4 linked regions of the Homo sapiens genome follow. The protein of the gene in region 4 purifies or fractionates together with the protein of the main gene of each other region. This does not show direct contact. Each region holds a gene or a part of one and is shown on either strand. Other genes may lie near its edges.

Evidence for each region.
Region 1: the proteins of CNN2 (region 4) and CDA purify together in Homo sapiens (co-immunoprecipitation; one large-scale study listed by IntAct). This does not show direct contact.
Region 2: the proteins of CNN2 (region 4) and ALDH8A1 fractionate together in Homo sapiens (co-fractionation; one large-scale study listed by BioGRID). This does not show direct contact.
Region 3: the proteins of CNN2 (region 4) and MTAP fractionate together in Homo sapiens (co-fractionation; one large-scale study listed by BioGRID). This does not show direct contact.

The regions. Positions count from the first base shown.
Region 1 is NC_000001.11:20,587,834-20,591,896, reverse strand, and holds the start of CDA (cytidine deaminase), read right to left. Parts: upstream 2,801-4,063; 5' UTR 2,768-2,800; coding exon 2,614-2,767; intron 1-2,613. UniProt on the Homo sapiens protein: This enzyme scavenges exogenous and endogenous cytidine and 2'-deoxycytidine for UMP synthesis.
Region 2 is NC_000006.12:134,932,570-134,937,490, forward strand, and holds part of ALDH8A1 (2-aminomuconic semialdehyde dehydrogenase), read right to left. Parts: intron 464-4,921; coding exon 207-463; intron 1-206. UniProt on the Homo sapiens protein: Catalyzes the NAD-dependent oxidation of 2-aminomuconic semialdehyde of the kynurenine metabolic pathway in L-tryptophan degradation.
Region 3 is NC_000009.12:21,860,935-21,865,328, forward strand, and holds part of MTAP (S-methyl-5'-thioadenosine phosphorylase), read left to right. Parts: intron 1-1,041; coding exon 1,042-1,080; 3' UTR 1,081-4,394. UniProt on the Homo sapiens protein: Catalyzes the reversible phosphorylation of S-methyl-5'-thioadenosine (MTA) to adenine and 5-methylthioribose-1-phosphate. Involved in the breakdown of MTA, a major by-product of polyamine biosynthesis.
Region 4 is NC_000019.10:1,028,960-1,033,880, reverse strand, and holds part of CNN2 (calponin-2), read right to left. Parts: intron 2,811-4,921; coding exon 2,689-2,810; intron 1,490-2,688; coding exon 1,423-1,489; intron 1,323-1,422; coding exon 1,185-1,322; intron 1-1,184. UniProt on the Homo sapiens protein: Thin filament-associated protein that is implicated in the regulation and modulation of smooth muscle contraction. It is capable of binding to actin, calmodulin and tropomyosin. The interaction of calponin with actin inhibits the actomyosin Mg-ATPase activity.

The sequences.
Region 1 (4,063 bases), on a different chromosome or scaffold from region 4:
ACTCCAGCCTGGGTGACAGAGTGAGACTCCATCTCAAAAAAAAAAAACAAAAAAAAACCCATAAATAAATAAAATGTATGAGCTGACACTCAGAAAGGTGAAGGGTCTCACCCAGAGTCACACAGTTGATAAACACCAGCCTTCCAACCCAGGAACCTCTGACTCTGAAGCCTCCATTTCACTCTCTAAATCCCCATCACACAACCCTTTCTCTGGTGACACCAGGTCTTTCCCTGCAATGCAAATGGGCCACAGTCCTGTTTATCTCCTCCATTCCTTCCTTCCACTGGATGAGGCTCGAGCCTTCAGTCATCACCTATGCAATATGAGGGGACTGCCATGGGGGCAGGGATTGTGTCATCCCTGTTCACTGTGATATCCCCAGCACCTGGCACCTTACCTGGAACAGAGTTGATGTTCAGCAAATATCTGTTGAATGATCAGTATGAGGGTGACAGAGGTGTGGACTTCACTGGAAGGAGCTCCCAGGTGTCACTTATGAGTGAAAGTGTGCCTCCTTTATTGTGGGTTTGTTTTTTTTTGTTTGTTTGTTTTTGAGACAGAGTCTCGCTCTGTCGCCCAGGCTGGAGTGCAGTGGCACGATCTCGGCTCTCTGCAAGCTCCGCCTCCCAGGTTCACACCATTCTCCTGCCTCAGCCTCCCGAGTAGCTGGGACTACAGGCACCCATCACCACGCCCGGCTATTTTTTTTTGTATTTTTAGTAGAGATGGAGTTTCACCGTGTTAGCCAGGATGGTCTCGATCTCCTGACATCGTGATCCGCCTGCCTCGGCCTCCCAAAGTGCTGGGGTTACAGGCGTGAGCCACCATGCCCGACTATTGTGGGTTTTAAAACAAGAAAGGACCCAAGCATTCTGGCATGGGGGTCCCCTGGCTCTGGAGGCACGATGAGGCTGTCTGACCTCCTGCTGTTCCAAGCAGAACACCAGTTCCAGTGCTGGAAAGCATGGATGGAAGGCAGCCATGCTGGCCCCACAGGCCAGGAAATGCTGTGGCCGAACATGCTGAGCCCCCATCACCACCACCTGCCCCACCATCCCTCTTCCTTCTGCTTCTCCAAACGTACTCATCTCATTCATTCATCCAATCAGTCACTCAACAGTTATTGAGTGCCTGTTCTGAGCCAGGCAGGTGCTACGTCACAGCACGAGAAAGTCAATGGCACAAAGATTCAAGACACAGCTCCTGCCCTCTGCAGCACAAAGTCCCAAGGGAGAGGCAGATACATAAGTGGACAGTGATGACACCATGTGATAAGCACGGCAGGAGGGGTCAGTGTGGGTGCCGGGGGATTGTAGGAGGGCCCTTTCTGTGCCATCTGGAAAGGATGTGGAGGCTTTCGAAAGAATCAAGGGCTGATTTCCACATTCAAGATTCTGCAATGTTGTGAGTTGCAATGGTGTTTGCGGTGGTGGTGAATGTTTGTTGTTTGTGGTGGTGGTTAATGTTTAATATTCACCTCAGCCACCAAAACAGGTCTGAATTTCAACACGGTACTCAGAGATCCTTCACTCCCCACAGAGCAACAGCTTTTGGAGTCAGGGGAAGTCTGGGTTCCAATCCCAGCTCTGTGATTTTGAGCTCTGAAACTTTCCAAACCTGTTTCCTTCTCTGCCTTTCAGGGTTGCAGGGGTTAAATGGATAGCATTAATCACCTTCCTTTCACAGGCTGTTAGCACTCAATCAAACCTGCTTCTCCCACTCAAAGATGTTTAAGACCCAGGCAAGTCACACCCGACAGAACCTCAACAGACAGGGAATAATACCAAGGGGTACCTCCACACCATGTCCCCTACTGCCCTGAAGGAGAATGCCTCTAAGCTTAGCAAAAACAAGCTTGAATTTTTGCTCACATGAACTTTTCTACAAAAGCAATAAATCAAAGAAAAGAGTTTAGGAACAGATTAGAGCAGACTCAGATGGGCTCAGGTTCCATTACCCGCCCCCGCCCCGCAGGGCGCTGCTCACTGCTGGACTCCGAAAGCCCAGCTGGCTTTTCTCCTCCAAGATTCTCCACCGACCACCCCCGACAAACACGTCACCACCCTGGCCAGCACTGAGCACAGTGGGTGGAAGGAAGAGAGCAGGGCTTTGGGGAACCTCCAGCCCAGGGTTTCACCACCAGCGCCCCGTGTGACCTTGGGCAAGTCATGTCACCTCTCGAGACCTCCGTAGTTTCATCTAAAGACGAGCATTAACACTTAGGTCAGTGGGCAGGAGGTGTGGACTTAGTGTTGTGGAAGCCTCAGTAAGGTGCCAGACATATCCGAGGCTGGGAAAGCACGAACGCTCTCCCTGCCTGCACCCCAGGACTGTTGATGTTTTTGATTTATGGCCTCCCCTTCCTGCCTCCCATCCAACTTCCTTCCTCATCCCAGTCCTCTAAGCATTGAAAGACCCTGGATTTAAGCCACATTTGAGCGCGGTCTGGGGCAGTCGGCAGGGTAGGAACATTCCAGCGGAGACTGGGGGAAGAAGGGACAGAGCCGCGCTCTTGCCACTGCCTGTGCCTCTGCGCCTCTTCCTGTACATCTTCCTCTGACCCACCACCCAGGCTGCTGGGCTGGGGGACCCTGGGGTGCCCACCTTTACCTTTGAAGATTCTCCCCTCCTGGGTGAGCAGGGCAGCCCCCACAGGAAAGTGACTGTAGGGGCAGTAGGCTGACTTCTTGGCCTCCTGGGAGCAAACCAGCAGCTGCTGGACACACTCAGGCTTCAGGGTGCAGGCAGGACGCTTCTGGGCCATGTTGGTACCCCGGGCAGGCAGCAGAGCAGCGGGAAACAGGAGCTCCGGCCAGCCTGGGCTGGGGCCCCAGACACGATTGCAGCTCCTCCCCTTGGGTGTGTCCCTGCAGCCAGACCGCAGGCTCTCAGGTACGCAGCTTTCAGGATGCAGGGTCTAGGAGAGGAGCCTCCCATGGTTTGGACTCAGCAGGTGTGGTGTAAGACAGTGCCTACGTGTGCTTCACACTCTCCCTTAGGAACCACTCTCACTGGTGGACACACTGAGGGGTGGGTCAGAAGGTGGTGCCACGCTACTGGAAGGGGAAGCTACTGGGTGGGGCAGTGTGAGATCTCAAAGGTCCAAGCTCCAAGGGCTGACAGTCCTCACTTTGTTAAATCACTTTTTCTCTCCTTCACTGAGGGAAGGGCTGAGGCTGAAAGGGCAGGGCTGGGGCAGCCACTGCGGCATCCCGAGGCAGGAGGCATGAACAAGCTGCAGTATAACTGAGAACTTCTTTATTTTCACCCATTTTCCTTCCAACTTCTCTTTGCCCTAGCCCAGAATTAAAAAGTGTCTCAGCTGCTGGGTGTGGTGGCTCACTTTAGGAGGCTGAGGCAGGAGGACTGCTTGAGCCCAGGAGTTTGAGAACAGCCTTGGCAATATGGCAAAACCCTGTTTCTACAAAAAATACAAAAATTAGCTGGGCATGGTGGCATGTGCCTGTAGTCCTAGCTACTTGGGAAGCTGAGGTGGGAGGATGGCTTGAACCCAGGAGGCAGAGGCTGCAGTGAGCTCAGATTGCACCACTGCATTCCAGCCTGGGTGACAGAGAGCCAGACCCTGTCTCAAAAAAAAAAAAAAAAAAAAAAAGTATCTCAATTGGAGGGTGGAGTTAACCGTTGAGATTATTTACTCAGGCCCCCTCATTGTTTTGTTGGCAAAATAGATATTGGTGTTGGTGGTAAAGAAATGTGTTTGCATCCTGGTTCTACTACTTTCCATGTGTACAAGCTTTGGCAGGTCACTTGACCTCCCTGAACCACAGTTTCCTCATGTCAACAGCAGAGATAGTAATAATCCCTGTTCTAGATCCTGAGACTGTAGAAGGGCTCCAGCTTTGGAGTTTAGTAAACCATGGTTTGAATTCCATTCCTGCCATTTATTAGACATATGACATTGGGAAGGTCACACACCATCTCCCTAAGCCTCAGTGTCCTCATCTGCAAAATGGGTGCACTAACATGATTTCACTTCCAGAGTTGTCATGAGGATTGAATGAGATAATGCGTGTACAATGGGTGTGGCTGGAGAGTCTGG
Region 2 (4,921 bases), on a different chromosome or scaffold from region 4:
TGCTGAACAGAAGCTGTGACTCTGCAAGGCCACTAATTAATGTTAAAATTGAGCAGAGAGTTAAGGGAATCACACAATGTACTGATCCTGCTTTCTCGGAAATGGCACTGGATTGACTGGCTTGCTCCCAGGCATTGCACTGTGATAAAACAGATCCAGCTTGACAGGGCCATGGAGGGGAGGGAGAAGAACCCCCGGGGACATACCTGGTTGGCAAAGCTGGACCTGACGGTTGCCGGAATGCACTCATCCAGGTTGGCGTCCTCAAAGATGATGGCAGGATTCTTGCCCCCCAGCTCCAGGGAGAGCTTTTTGCAGTGGGGAGCGCTCAGCTGGGTGATCCGCTCAGCGGTGGGCTGGCTCCCGGTGAAGGAGATCAGGGGCACCTCTGGGTGGGACACCAGGGCCTCACCCACCCTGGGCCCGGTTCCAAACACAATATTGACCACACCTGGTGGAACACCTGGATAGGAAACAGTATCAGTTATAGTAATTCTCAGTATGTTGAAGAGTTCAAGTTACTTGGAAATTCTCCTTTAAAGTCCAATCGCTTGAATGGGAGTGGGTAGGGATGGAGGAAGCACTTGGGTTTTACAACACTTGGAACTTCTATGGCTGCCTCTGGTTTAATAGCAAAGCAAAAACCACAGATTCACCTCTGCCCACAGTAAACACCAGGTGGGATTCCACTGGATGCTTTGCCCTAGAGAGATGCAGGGTGGAACATATTTTAGGTGATTCATTCCATAATACTGGCTAGGCCTTAGGGGTTGAGGATGCAGAGATAGTCTCAGGCAGGTCAAGCCCACTAGGGGAGCAGCACCCTGCTCCATCTTGGTGTCCAGGAGTCACAATGCTGTGTGAAAACATTAAGTAGAGAGGTGTATACATGCTGCAGAGGTGCAAAGAAGAGATTGACTATCTTGGCCCAGGGAAGCAGGGCAAGACTCCCCAGGGAGGGTGGGTTTCAGGTTGGAAGTCATGTCCACCATGCTTATAAATAGCATCATAACACTGTAGTGCCAACTTACAAGTACCACAAACAACCAAAAATGGGTGCCCCAATCTTTTCTATCACAAGACTCTGCTACCCTGTATCTTCGTGCATTTATGCATGTGTTTTCTTGTTTTATTATTTTATTTATTTATTTATTTTTGAGATGGAGTCTGGCTCTATTGCCAAGGCTGCAGTGCAGTGGCACCATCTCGGCTCACTGCAACCTCTGCCTCCCAGGTTCAAGAGATTCTCCTGCCTCAGCCTCCCGAGTAGCTGGGATTACAGGCGTGCACCATTACACCTGGCTAAATTTTGTATTTTTAGTAGAGAGGGGATTTCATCATGTTGGCCAGGCTGGTCTCGAACTCCTGACCTCAAGTGATCTGCCCACCTCGGCCTGCCAAAGTACTAGGATTACAGGCATGAGCCACCGCGCCCAGCCTATCCATGATGTTTTCTGGACTTACTTGTTCATTGCCTGCACACAACTAGAAGGTACACTAGCTAAGGGCAGAAACAGTGTCTGTTCTTTGCTCTCCGTTGTTTACTCTGTGCCACAGCCTAGTTTGGCATTGAGAAATAAAAATAAAATCCTAAGCTCCCCCAGTTGACTGAATGCAGCCTCTCTTGGCCAAAGCGATCCCAGAGAAACCTTAAAAACTGAGTTCCCAGCCATTATGGGATGAGAGGTCAAACACGCCATAGTATGACTCTTCCTTATTAATCTTTAACCAGAATTCTTTCCTCAGTGTAAGCAGAAACCAGCTCTAAAAAACAAGAAATGGATAATCTATTCCTTTATCGCCTTTAGCTAACCATCTGAAACTGCAACCAAATTTTCCTCCCTCTTTGCAGTTTGGATGTGACAGCTCACCAGTCTCACAACACATCCCTTCCTAAAAACTGATCACCATCTCGACTGGTTTTGGCTGACTTCCCGAGGATACGTAGTGAGGGTTTTCATGTCCTCTGCTTCACCTTTTGACATCAGAGGGCCAAAAACTCAACCCTCGGAACATGCTAAGGCTGCCATTTTTTGAGCACGTGATCCAGAATTCATGTCCACCATGTATATAAACGCATCATAACACTGTTATATAACACTACTCAGGAGGCTGAGGCAGGAGAATCTCTTGAACCCAGGAGGCAGAGGTTGCAGTGAGCCGAGATGGTGCCACTGCACTCCAGCCTTGGCAATGCAGCCAGACTCCATCTCAAAAATAAATAAATAAATGAAATAATAAAACAAGAAAACACATGCATAAATGCATGAAGATACAGGGTAGCAGAGTCTTGTGATAGAAAAGATTGGGGCACCCATTTTTGGTTGTTTGTGTTACTTGTAAGTTGGCCCTACAGTTTTATGAGCGCATTAAGCTCATCTGTGCATGCACCTGTTTCCCCTTTCATAAATATTCATGACTCCTCCCATATCCTACTGAATGTGAATATTCAGCCACTCTGCTCAGGATAAATTTCTGTTCCCTTTGCCCCTCCTCCAAGTACTTGTTCTCCGCTTTGGGCAGAGGCTACGCTTCCCAGCCTGCAAGATGGCTAGCCTGCAGGCTGCAACCCTTTATAAGAAATAAAACCCTCCTTTCCAAATGCATGAACCTTATGATTCTTCAGTTGATAGCACATGGAACTCAGACCAGTAAATGCAAACATTAGATAGGGTGCTTACTGTGGACTCATCACTGCTATCCGTGACTCACACACTTCAGTCTTCACAACAACCTTAGGATGTAGGTAGTTTTATTACACTTAGTTCACCAGGAAGAAATTTGAGGGAAAGTGAGATTGAATAACAATCAGTAAGCAGCAAAGCTGACAGGTTAATGACTGTTAAGTAAATGAATGAGTGAATGAATGCTTAGTGTACGTTATTCAAATTAGAAATGGTTCATGAATGGGGAAGCTTTAAAAAGAAAATCATCTTTATAATATCCAAAAAGAAAGTCATCTGTATAATCACGCTGTGTCTAGGCAGTTCTTAGGGTCTGCCTGGAGGTAGCAGAGTTTATTCCCTCTATTTCCTCAGGCCTGACCTACGGTAGGTGCAGAAATCTTGCAGCATCTCGGCTTTGTGACCTGCTTCCTTGCTTCTGGTTTCCTTCCCTTTGCTCCAGGTTAGACAATCTCTCCTCATTAGAAACATACTCCTTTGGATACAACCCATTTCTTCCAGAATCTACTTTTAAATTATAAATAATATAAATACTAATTTCACACTGATGATCCATTATCATCCAGAACATTCTCCCATACAGCCACAGCCTTGGCCCAATCACCTTGAAGCTACAGTGAAGGTCCCATCCCAGTGAGTCCTCAGGAGACAGGTGGGAAGATTCCACAAGTTGTGATGGTGCCTAGCAGAGCCCCACTTCTTTTTTTTTTTTTTTTGAGATGGAGTCTCGCTCTGTCACCCAGGCTGGAGTGCAAAGGCGCAATCTCTGCTCTCTGCAACCTCCGCCTCCTAGGTTCAAGCGATTTTCCCACCTCAGCCTCCTAAGTAGCTGGGATTACCGGCACTTGCCATCATCCCCAGCTAGTTTTTGTATTTTGGTAGAGATGGGATTTCACCACGTTAGCCAGGTTGGTCTTGAACTCCTGACCTCAGGTGATCCACCCACCTTGGCCTCCCAAAGTGCTGGGATTACAGGCATAAGCCACCATGCCTGGCCAAAGCACCACTTCTAAGCATTGCATCTCTTTACCCAACATGCACATTTGTTGAAATCTAGCTTAGGTCAGTCCTGGATTGTAGGTCACTGTCAGAGGAGTGGCTGGCACCATGTGAGAGCACCCCAGCTTTGGGTTGGGGCAAAGGAAAGTGTGGAAGGAGAGGATCCCCCTCAGTAGGTGATGCGACGAAACAAGGACAAGTCTCCCACAGTTTCCTGGGTAGGGCCCCACATCTCCACCAGTGATGGGGCATGCATGTGGGTGGATGGGGTGTGGGGCAGGAGGGGGTGGACTGTTAGGCTTTATCAATCCTGAAGGCAAAAAATGAATGGAATCACTGCTAATGTTCAGAGTAGCATTTTAACTGAGGGTGAGAGAGAATGCGGAAGCACTGCATATTTATCCCCACAGTAAAATGCGCTCACTGCGGCAGCGGATTGCTTTCCCCACGACAGTATTATCATTTTGACTACATTCCCTTGGGCTTGGATGCTAATGTCAGCTGGCCATTATTTCTCAGTACCATTTTGACATTTTATCCAGAAATTAATGGAATTTTTCTTGAGATGTCTGCCCTCTAACCTTGAAGAGATTCTGGTGATAAGAGAAGGAAAGCAGTTTAACTGACAAATAGCAATTTAGCAAAACTCAGGGGAGGTGGCTAACAGACAAGTTAGGAACAGACGAGAACAGACTAGAAGGAAACCCCTCAAATGTAGGGGCTTGGCAGGGTGGCAACAAGAAAAATTTTAGGCTTAAATAGAGCACACACACACACCCACCTACACACACACATCTCCTGCTCCACACACACACCTAATGGGAAGGGCCAGGAAAACGCAGTCAGTGGGCACTCCAGGAATGAGGGCAAATTTCCAAGAAGAAATGACTATTCCAGGAATCCCACAGAAGTATTCACTGTGTCATCTTAAAAATGAGTTTATTTTAAAGGAAGTTTATCTGTCAAGTCTGTTTAAATGCCCAGGACTAGAGGAGCTAACTCTTTAAACATCCAGAACGAATTAGTTATTTTCGCTTTTCCCTCCCCTACTAAAAGCTTCTCTTACGTTGCTCTAAAGCAGATGACACAGATGTGGTTCGCATTCCTTCCAATCCCAGTGGAGAAACTGAGGGCTCAAGAGAGGAGCAAGGTGAACATGACCCCCTCTATATTTGTCAGGGGAGGAAGTTTCAGCCCATGGAGGAAAGAGGAGAAGGGCTGTCTTAGTTTAATGGGCT
Region 3 (4,394 bases), on a different chromosome or scaffold from region 4:
ACCTAGTAGATGACCAACATGGTTTCATCATGTCGGTCAGGCTGGTCTTGAACTCCTGACCTCGTGATCCACCCGCTTTGGCCTCCCAAAGTGCTGGGATTACAGGCATGAGCCACTGCGCCCAGCCAAGTTTATTTTTTTTAAGTCTCCCAACTAACCCCACTTTGACCATAGTCTTTCAAAAGCTTGAAGTTAATTTCTCAAATAATATATTTACTGTTTTAGCTTTATTTTTAAGTAAAAATGCTTGAAGAGTAGAAATCAGTGTTCTCCTTTCCTGGAGCTTCTGAAATTGTAAAATTGTGTGATTTTATTTGTATGCATTTTTAAAGAGGCTTAGTTTACGTAGCTTTCATCGGATTTTCAAAGGAGGATTTTATATATATGTGTATATATATACACACATACATACATATACACACACACACATATAAAACCTAAAGAGAGAAAATGAGGAATTCCTGCTCTAGACAAAACTGAGAATCTTGGTCTTCATGCTACAGCATTAAGGAACACCATACTAATAATCCCTTTTTCTGGGGTAGTATTGTTAGCACTGAAATGTGTATCATTCATTCCCTCACTAAGTCATTTCAGAAACACTTAGCACCTGCTATACGTCAAGGTCTGGTTTGCAAAGATAAAGAGTTGTGATGATGATCCTATGGTGTTTGGAGATATAGACACATAAAAATTTCAATGATTTCTTACAGTGGGGTAAGGATAAGGGATAGAGGTTGCATAAACAATAATCCAGGCTGGGGGCTGGTATGGCAATAAGTGATTATCAGAACAATGCTCTGAGATAAGCATTATTAACCTCACTTTACAGGAAAGGGAGGTGAGGAACCAAGAGTTTAGAGTACCCGAAGTTCCACATCTGGTTAGTGAACTTGAAAATTTTCTGTAGAATTTATTTAAAGTGTATGTTTCCTGCGTCCTCACTTTGATCTAGAAAATCAAAATCTGTTTTTTTTTTTAACAAACATCTCAGTAATTACGCCAACATGTGAATATCACTGCCTCCTTTCTTCCTTTCAGAATATGGCCCAGTTTTCTGTTTTATTACCAAGACATTAAAGTAGCATGGCTGCCCAGGAGAAAAGAAGACATTCTAATTCCAGTCATTTTGGGAATTCCTGCTTAACTTGAAAAAAATATGGGAAAGACATGCAGCTTTCATGCCCTTGCCTATCAAAGAGTATGTTGTAAGAAAGACAAGACATTGTGTGTATTAGAGACTCCTGAATGATTTAGACAACTTCAAAATACAGAAGAAAAGCAAATGACTAGTAAACATGTGGGAAAAAATATTACATTTTAAGGGGGAAAAAAAAACCCACCATTCTCTTCTCCCCCTATTAAATTTGCAACAATAAAGGGTGGAGGGTAATCTCTACTTTCCTATACTGCCAAAGAATGTGAGGAAGAAATGGGACTCTTTGGTTATTTATTGATGCGACTGTAAATTGGTACAGTATTTCTGGAGGGCAATTTGGTAAAATGCATCAAAAGACTTAAAAATACGGACGTACTTTGTGCTGGGAACTCTACATCTAGCAATTTCTCTTTAAAACCATATCAGAGATGCATACAAAGAATTATATATAAAGAAGGGTGTTTAATAATGATAGTTATAATAATAAATAATTGAAACAATCTGAATCCCTTGCAATTGGAGGTAAATTATGTCTTAGTTATAATTAGATTGTGAATCAGCCAACTGAAAATCCTTTTTGCATATTTCAATGTCCTAAAAAGACACGGTTGCTCTATATATGAAGTGAAAAAAGGATATGGTAGCATTTTATAGTACTAGTTTTGCTTTAAAATGCTATGTAAATATACAAAAAAACTAGAAAGAAATATATATAACCTTGTTATTGTATTTGGGGGAGGGATACTGGGATAATTTTTATTTTCTTTGAATCTTTCTGTGTCTTCACATTTTTCTACAGTGAATTTAATCAAATAGTAAAGTTGTTGTAAAAATAAAAGTGGATTTAGAAAGATCCAGTTCTTGAAAACACTGTTTCTGGTAATGAAGCAGAATTTAAGTTGGTAATATTAAGGTGAATGTCATTTAAGGGAGTTACATCTTTATTCTGCTAAAGAAGAGGATCATTGATTTCTGTACAGTCAGAACAGTACTTGGGTTTGCAACAGCTTTCTGAGAAAAGCTAGGTGTTTAATAGTTTAACTGAAAGTTTAACTATTTAAAAGACTAAATGCACATTTTATGGTATCTGATATTTTAAAAAGTAATGTTTGATTCTCCTTTTTATGAGTTAAATTATTTTATACGAGTTGGTAATTTTTGCTTTTTAATAAAGTGGAAGCTTGCTTTTTTAACTCTTTTTTTATTGTTATTTTATAGAAATGCTTTTTGTTGGCCGGGCACAGTTGCTCATCCATGTAATCCCAGCACTGTGGGAGGCCGAGACGGGTGGATCACAAGGTCAGGAGATCGAGACCATCCTGGCTAATGCGTTGAAACTCCGTCTCTACTAAAAATACAAAAAATTAGCTGGGCGTGGTGGTGGGCACCTGTAGTCCCAGCTACTCAGGAGGCTGAGGCAGGAGAATGGTGTGAACCTGGGAGGTGGAGCTTGCAGTGAGCAGAGCTTGCAGTGAGACGAGCTTGTGCCACTGCACTCCAGCCTGGGCAACAGAGTAAGACTCAGTCTCAAAAAAAAAAAAAAGAGTGAAATGCTTTTTGTTTGCTTCAGTTTTTTATCATGGGGAGATCTTTTTCCTCAGAATTGTTTTCTTTTCACTGTAGGCTATTACAGGATACTTCAGGATCAAGATACAGAACCTTTTATTTAAAGAGTTTGTAAAGTCAATGTGTTTGTTTGTGTCTCTGAGATTGACTTCAAGATAATAAGCTGCTAATTGTAAACAAAACAGTTACCCTCCAGTATTAATATGACTCATTAGTGTGAGCCATTTGGGTCAAGTATGATTATGACCCTTGGACTTCCTGATGTAGTATTAAATTTCAACTCTGGTTATCCATTAGCAATCTGTAGAGAACTTAATGAACCTGAACCCAGGCTTCTCTAGCTCTGGTAACGTGTGATTGTTTTCACTACAATATGATACATAGATGGTACCTTACTTTTCCTCATTCTTAATAGGTGTCTAAGAATGTCAGGGCAAAAGTATGGGCATTTTTCTTGCTATGTTCAGAAAGTACAGTTCTCTCCAACTTGCAGAGGTACTTTTCTTGATTAAATAGCCTTCTCTAGCAACATCATTTTCAGACTAACTAAATGAATGCAGTATACTCTTTTCTTTGTTCTCAATCATTCACTCCTTATGCAAAGCCAATATAATTTTCCTCATACCTTATGCTTGAGGATATTGTTGAAGAACACTTCCTGGAACACTTCTCACTTGTGATGCTGTACTAATTTTTTTTTTTTAATTTAAGCTAGTATACTAAGTGAACACCATGGTCAGTTGTGAGCATTTTGGTTTCCGCAAAGGATGGATGGTGAGCATCATGGGAAAGCTGTAGTTTAGTGACTTAGCCCTTAGTGATTAATAGATTTGCATGTACATAGAAGTCTTTGTTGGCCTTATAATCTGCTGTTATATTTGGCATGGATTTTCATGGTTTTGAGAATGACATCCTGGCCCTGTGGTCCCCGAGGGTCATGGTCCTTGTGACCTGGCCCCTGTTCACTGCCCCCTTCGCTAGCACGAGTTGCTGTGCAGGGCTGGAGGTAGCTACCATGGCTTGTTTCAAGGAAGGAAACTCTGGTACGGTGGCACCCTCAGGAGTGGAGGACAGTGAACTTCCTTGAAGAGGGAGTGACTAAGGTGACCTCCAACCTGCCCTGAGCCAGCTGCCCTGCAGGTGCCACGTGAGCCTGCTCTGGCATCCACAGGATGCTCCTGGAGCCTCTTCTCTGGCTGCTACCTCAGGGCATGGTTGTGGCCCCACCAACACCTATTTTCCAAATAATTATTCATTCTTGTGACAGTGGCCTGAACATGTTTTTAATTTTCTCAACAAGCATTTAGCCAGCACTTATCCAGTGAAACAATTTGATAAGGTTTCAAGGAGTATCTGATGGGTTAGGAAGTCACGAAATGAGGAGTTCTTGCCACATTTGCAGAGTCCCTCCTTGATAAGGTTTGGCGGTGTCCCCACCCAAATCTCATGTTGAATTGTAGTTCCCATAATCCCCACATGTTGTGGGAGGGACCCAGTGGGAGGTAATTAAATCATGGGGGTGGTTACCCCCACACTGCTGTTCTCATGATACTGAGTTCTCACAAGTCCTGTTTGTTTTATAAGGGGCTTTTCCCCCTTTTGCTCAACACTTCTTCCTGCCATCATGTGAAGAAGGACGTGTTTGTTTCCCCTTCTGCCACGATTGTAA
Region 4 (4,921 bases):
CTACACCAGACACCGTGTCCCACCCACGCTGCCGGTCTACACCAGACACCGTCCCACCCACGCTCCCCGTCTACACCAGACACCGTGTCCCACCCACGCTCCCGGTCTACACCAGACACCGTCCCACCCACGCTCCCCGTCTACACCAGACACCGTGTCCCACCCACGCTCCCGGTCTACACCAGACACCGTGTCCCACCCACGCTCCCGGTCTACACCAGACACTGTCCCACCCACGCTCCCGGTCTACACCACTGTCCCACCCACGCTCCCGGTCTGGGTTTGAAGATCACTAGACACTCAACATTCGTCTGATTCTTCTCCTTCAAGGCATTTCTCCCAGTTCAGAGCTTATTTATTACTTTTGTTATGATTATTTTTTGAGAGAGTCTTGCTCTGTTGCCCAGGCTGGAGAGCAGTGGTGTGGTCATAGCTCACTGCAACCTCTTAACTCCTGGGCTCAGCCTCCCGAGTAGCTGGGATTACAGGCATGCACCACCACGCCCAGGTAATTTTTGTTTTCTTAGTAGAGATGGGGTTTCACCATGTTGGCCAGGCTGGTCTCGAACTCCTGGTGTCAAGCAATTCTCCAACCTCGGCCTCCCAAAGTGCTGGGATTACAGGTGTGAGCCACTGCGCCCGGCCAGAGCTTACATATAATGCATAATACAATGCTGTGTTCACTTTTGCATGCCTCCGCCATCAGACTGAACTGCATAAGGGGTAGACCATGTCCTTCCTGTTCACCAAGGAATCTGAAGTACCTGGCACCTCACGGATGCTCAGAAATATTTGTAAACGAGGCCGGGCACAGGGGCTCATGCCTGTAATCCCAGCACTTGGGGAGGCCGAGGCGGGCGGATCACCTGAAGTCAAGAGTTCAAGACCAGCCTGGCCAGCATGGTGAAACCCAGTCTCCACTAAAAATACAAAAATTAGCCAGGCGTGGTGGCAGGTGCCTGTAATCCCAGCTACTCGGGAGACTGAGGCAGAAGAATCGCTTGAACCTGGGAGTTGGAGGTTGCAGTGAGCTGAGATCACGCCATTGCACTCCAGCCTGAGTGACAGAGTGAGACTCCGACTCAAAAATAAACAAACAGAAATTTGCAAACGAGTGAATGCAGCAGCTACATCCACCTCGCTGTGTGACTCTGGGCAGGTGGCTGCCCCTCTCTGGGCCTCACCTTCCCCGCCAGGGCGAGAAGAGACACCTGCACCTGCGTCATGTTCCCACTCTCAAACAGGTCGTTGGCCTCGAACAGGTCCACAGGGTTCATGCCGTAGCTGACCATGGCCTTGATGAAGTTGGACAGGTTTTCTAGCTGGGAAGAGGCAGGAGAGGGACAGTGAGTGGGCCTCAGTCTCCCCACCTGTTAGATGGGCCCCCAGCACCATCCCTGCTCCGCTCCACCAGCCCCTCACCTGGTGCCAGTTCTGCATGGAGCGGTTGATCTTGGGGACGGAGCCCGGCTGTAGCTTGTTCATGAGTCTGGAGGGCACAACATGGGGCGGGGGAAACAGAAACCTCTGTGAGCAGCGAGGAACCGTGAAGACCCGATGCTGATCTCAGCCAAGCTCACGCCTTCCTGGGCAAACTCACGGCCTCTCTCTGGGCCTCAGTTTCCACTCTTTTTTTTTTTTTTTTTGAGACGGCGTCTAGCTCTGTCACCCAGACTAGAGTGCAATGGCACTATCTAGACTCACTGCCACCTCCACCTCCCGGGTTCAAGTGATTCTCCTGCCTCAGCCCTGAGCCTCCCGAGTAGCTGGGATTACAGGTGCCTGCCACCACACCCGGCTAATTTTTGCATTTTTAGTAGAGATGGAGTTTCACCATGTTGTCCAGGCTGGTCTCGATCTCCTGACCTCGTGATCCGTCCACCTCAACCTCCCAAAGTGCTGGGATTACAAGCGTGAGCCACCATCCCAGGCCTCAAGTTTCCACTCTTATAAAGTAATCTTTGGCTGGGTTTGGTGGCTCAGGCCTGTAAGCCCAGCACTTTGGAAGGCCGAGGCAGGCAGATCACGTGACGTCAAGGGCTCAAGACCAGCCTGGCCAACATGGAGCAACCCCATCTCTACTAAATATACAAAAAAAATTAGCCGGGCATGGTGGCAGTCGCCTGTAATCCCAGCTACTCGGGAGGCTGAGGCAGGGGAATCACTTGAACCCAGGAGGTGGAGGTTGCAGTGAGCCGAGATCATGCCACTGCACTCCAGCTTGGGCAACAGAGTGAGACTCCACCTCAAAAAAAAAAAATTATTTATTTAGCCACCACGCCCAGCTAACTTTTTTTTTTTTTTTTTTTTTTTTTTGAGATGGAGTCTCGCTGTGTCACCCCGGCTGGAGTGCAATGGTGTGATCTCGGCTCACTGCAACCTCCGCCTCCCGGGTTCAAGCAATTCTCCTTCCTCAGCCTCCTGAGTAGCTGGGATTACAGGTGCCTGGCTAATTTTTTTGTATTATTAGTACAGACGGGGTTTCACCATGTTGGCCAGGCTGGTCTCGAACTCCTGACCTCGAGATCCACCGCCCCCCGCCACCACCCTCGGCCTCCAAAAGTGCTGGGATTACAGGCATGAGCCAGGCCATGCCCGGCCCCCCAAAAATTTCTTAATTAAGAAAAAAAGTGAGAAAAACCAAGATTTGTTAAGTGTGAGACAGCCTGTGTCCCTGCGTGTACTCACGTGCATAAGATAGTTCCATCCTTCAGGCCCTTCTGGAAGTCGGGGCCGATGGAGAGGCCGGTGAGTCCCTCGATCCAGGTGCGGAGCTCTGCCTCCTTCTGGGGGTCATATTTGGACAGGAGCTGGTGGAGCAAAGGGCACGAGACTGAGCTGGGCTGGGGGCACCCCCAGCAGGAACCCCACAGAAGCTCTGCAGAGGGTGGGGCCGGGGACTCCAGGGCAACAGCAGATAGAGCGGCCTGGAGGTCCCCCCTCACCACACCCACGCAGATGCTCCCTTTTCCCATCATTGGGGGCGCCCCAGCCACTGCAGGCGGGCACAGATAAACCGCCCTCCAAGCAGGCCGACAACCGGCTTAGAACTCACTGATAAACATCAGCTCTAATCCACTCCCGGTGCAGGACAAACCTGGCCGGATCTGCCTCCCCGCCCTGCCTTCTCACCTCCCCGCTATATCACACCTGACGTTTACCACTTCAACCACCTGAAACCGCACCATTTCACAGCATTTCGTACGTCTGCAATGTTGTGCAACCATCAGCTCTTTTTTCTTTTTTATTTTTTTTGAGACAGAGTCTCACTCTGTCGCCCAGGCTGGAGTGCAGTGGTGCGATCTCGGCTCACTGCAAGCTCCGCCTCCCCGGTTCAGGCCATTCTCCTGCCTCAGCCTCCCGAGTAGCTGGGACTGCAGGCGCCCGCCACCAGGCCCAGCTCATTTTTTGTATTTTTAATAGAGACGGGGTTTCACCGTGTTAGCCAAGATGGTCTCCATCTCCTGACCTCGTGATCTGCCCGTCTCAGCCCTCCAAAGTGCTGGGATTACAGGTGTGAGCCACCGCGCCCGGCCCCCATCCTGCTTCTTAGCAACTCCCGAAGGAGCTGCCCCCGAGGCTGACCGCCTCTAGTCACGCACCTGGCTCCTTGCCACCGATTCCCTGCCACCTTTCTGCACCCGGCCATTCCAGCTTTCTTGGCCTTCGGTGCTCTGAGACACCGCCGTGGGGAATGGGCTGTGTGCTCCTGGGCAGTGGGTGTGCACCAGTGGGGACCTCGAGTGTCCCTATCCAGCCACTAGTGACCGCGGAGACAGCACTGAGGCAGACGGCAAAGTGTATAGGGGGCCATAAGCATGGGGGCAGGTCGTGTAGCGGGAGCGGGAGATAAACGCTGGAGGGAGAATAAAGTAGGGTTTGGGCTGGGTGCGGTGGCTCACACCTACAATCCCAGCACTTTGGGAGGCCAAGGCGGGCGGATCATCTGAGGTCAGGAGTTCGAGACTGGCCTAGCCCACATGGTGAAATCCCGTCTGTACTAAAATACAAAAATGAGCTGGGCGTGGTGGTGGGCACCTGTAGTCCCAGCTACTTGGGAGGCTGAGGCAGGAGAATCGCTTGAACCCAGGAGGCAGAGGAGGCAGTGAGCCAAGATCGGGCCACTTCACTCCAGCCTGGAACAGAGTGAGCCTCTGTCTTAAAAAAAAAAAGAAAGAAAAGAGAGAAGGAAAAAAAAAATCAAATCCCTCTCCCTGCTCTGCACCCATCTCCCCAGGTTCCCGCGGACAGCTCCCCACTCAGCCTCCGCTTCCTCATCTCTTCCTGGGATTATTTGGGTTAGGGTCCCCTGACCTGGACCTGCCTGGGATGATTTGGGTTAGGGTCCCCTGAGCTGGACCTGCCTGGGATGATTTGGGTTAGGGTCCCCTGAGCTGGACCTGCCTAGGATGATTTGGGTTAGGGTCCCCTGAGCTGGACCTGCCTGGGATGATTTGGGTTAGGGTCCCCTGAGCTGGACCTGCCTGGGATGATTTGGGTTAGGGTCCCCTGAGCTAGACCTGCCTGGGATGATTTGGGTAGGGTCCCCTGACCTGGACCTGCCTGGGATGATTTGGGTTAGGGTCCCCTGAGCTGGACCTGCCTGGGATGATTTGGGTTAGGGTCCCCTGAGCTGGACCTGCCTGGGATGATTTGGGTTAGGGTCCCCTGAGCTAGATCTGCCTGGAATGATTTGGGTAGGGTCCCCTGAGCTGGACCTGCCTGGGATGATTTGGGTTAGGGTCCCCTGAGCTGGACCTGCCTGGGATGATTTGGGTTAGGGTCCCCTGAGCTGGACCTGCCTGGGATGATTTGGGTTAGGGTCCCCTGAGCTGGACCTGCCTGGGATTATTTGGGATAGGGTCCCCTGACCTGGACCTGCCTGGGATTATTTGGGTTAGGGTCCCCTGACCTGGCACCT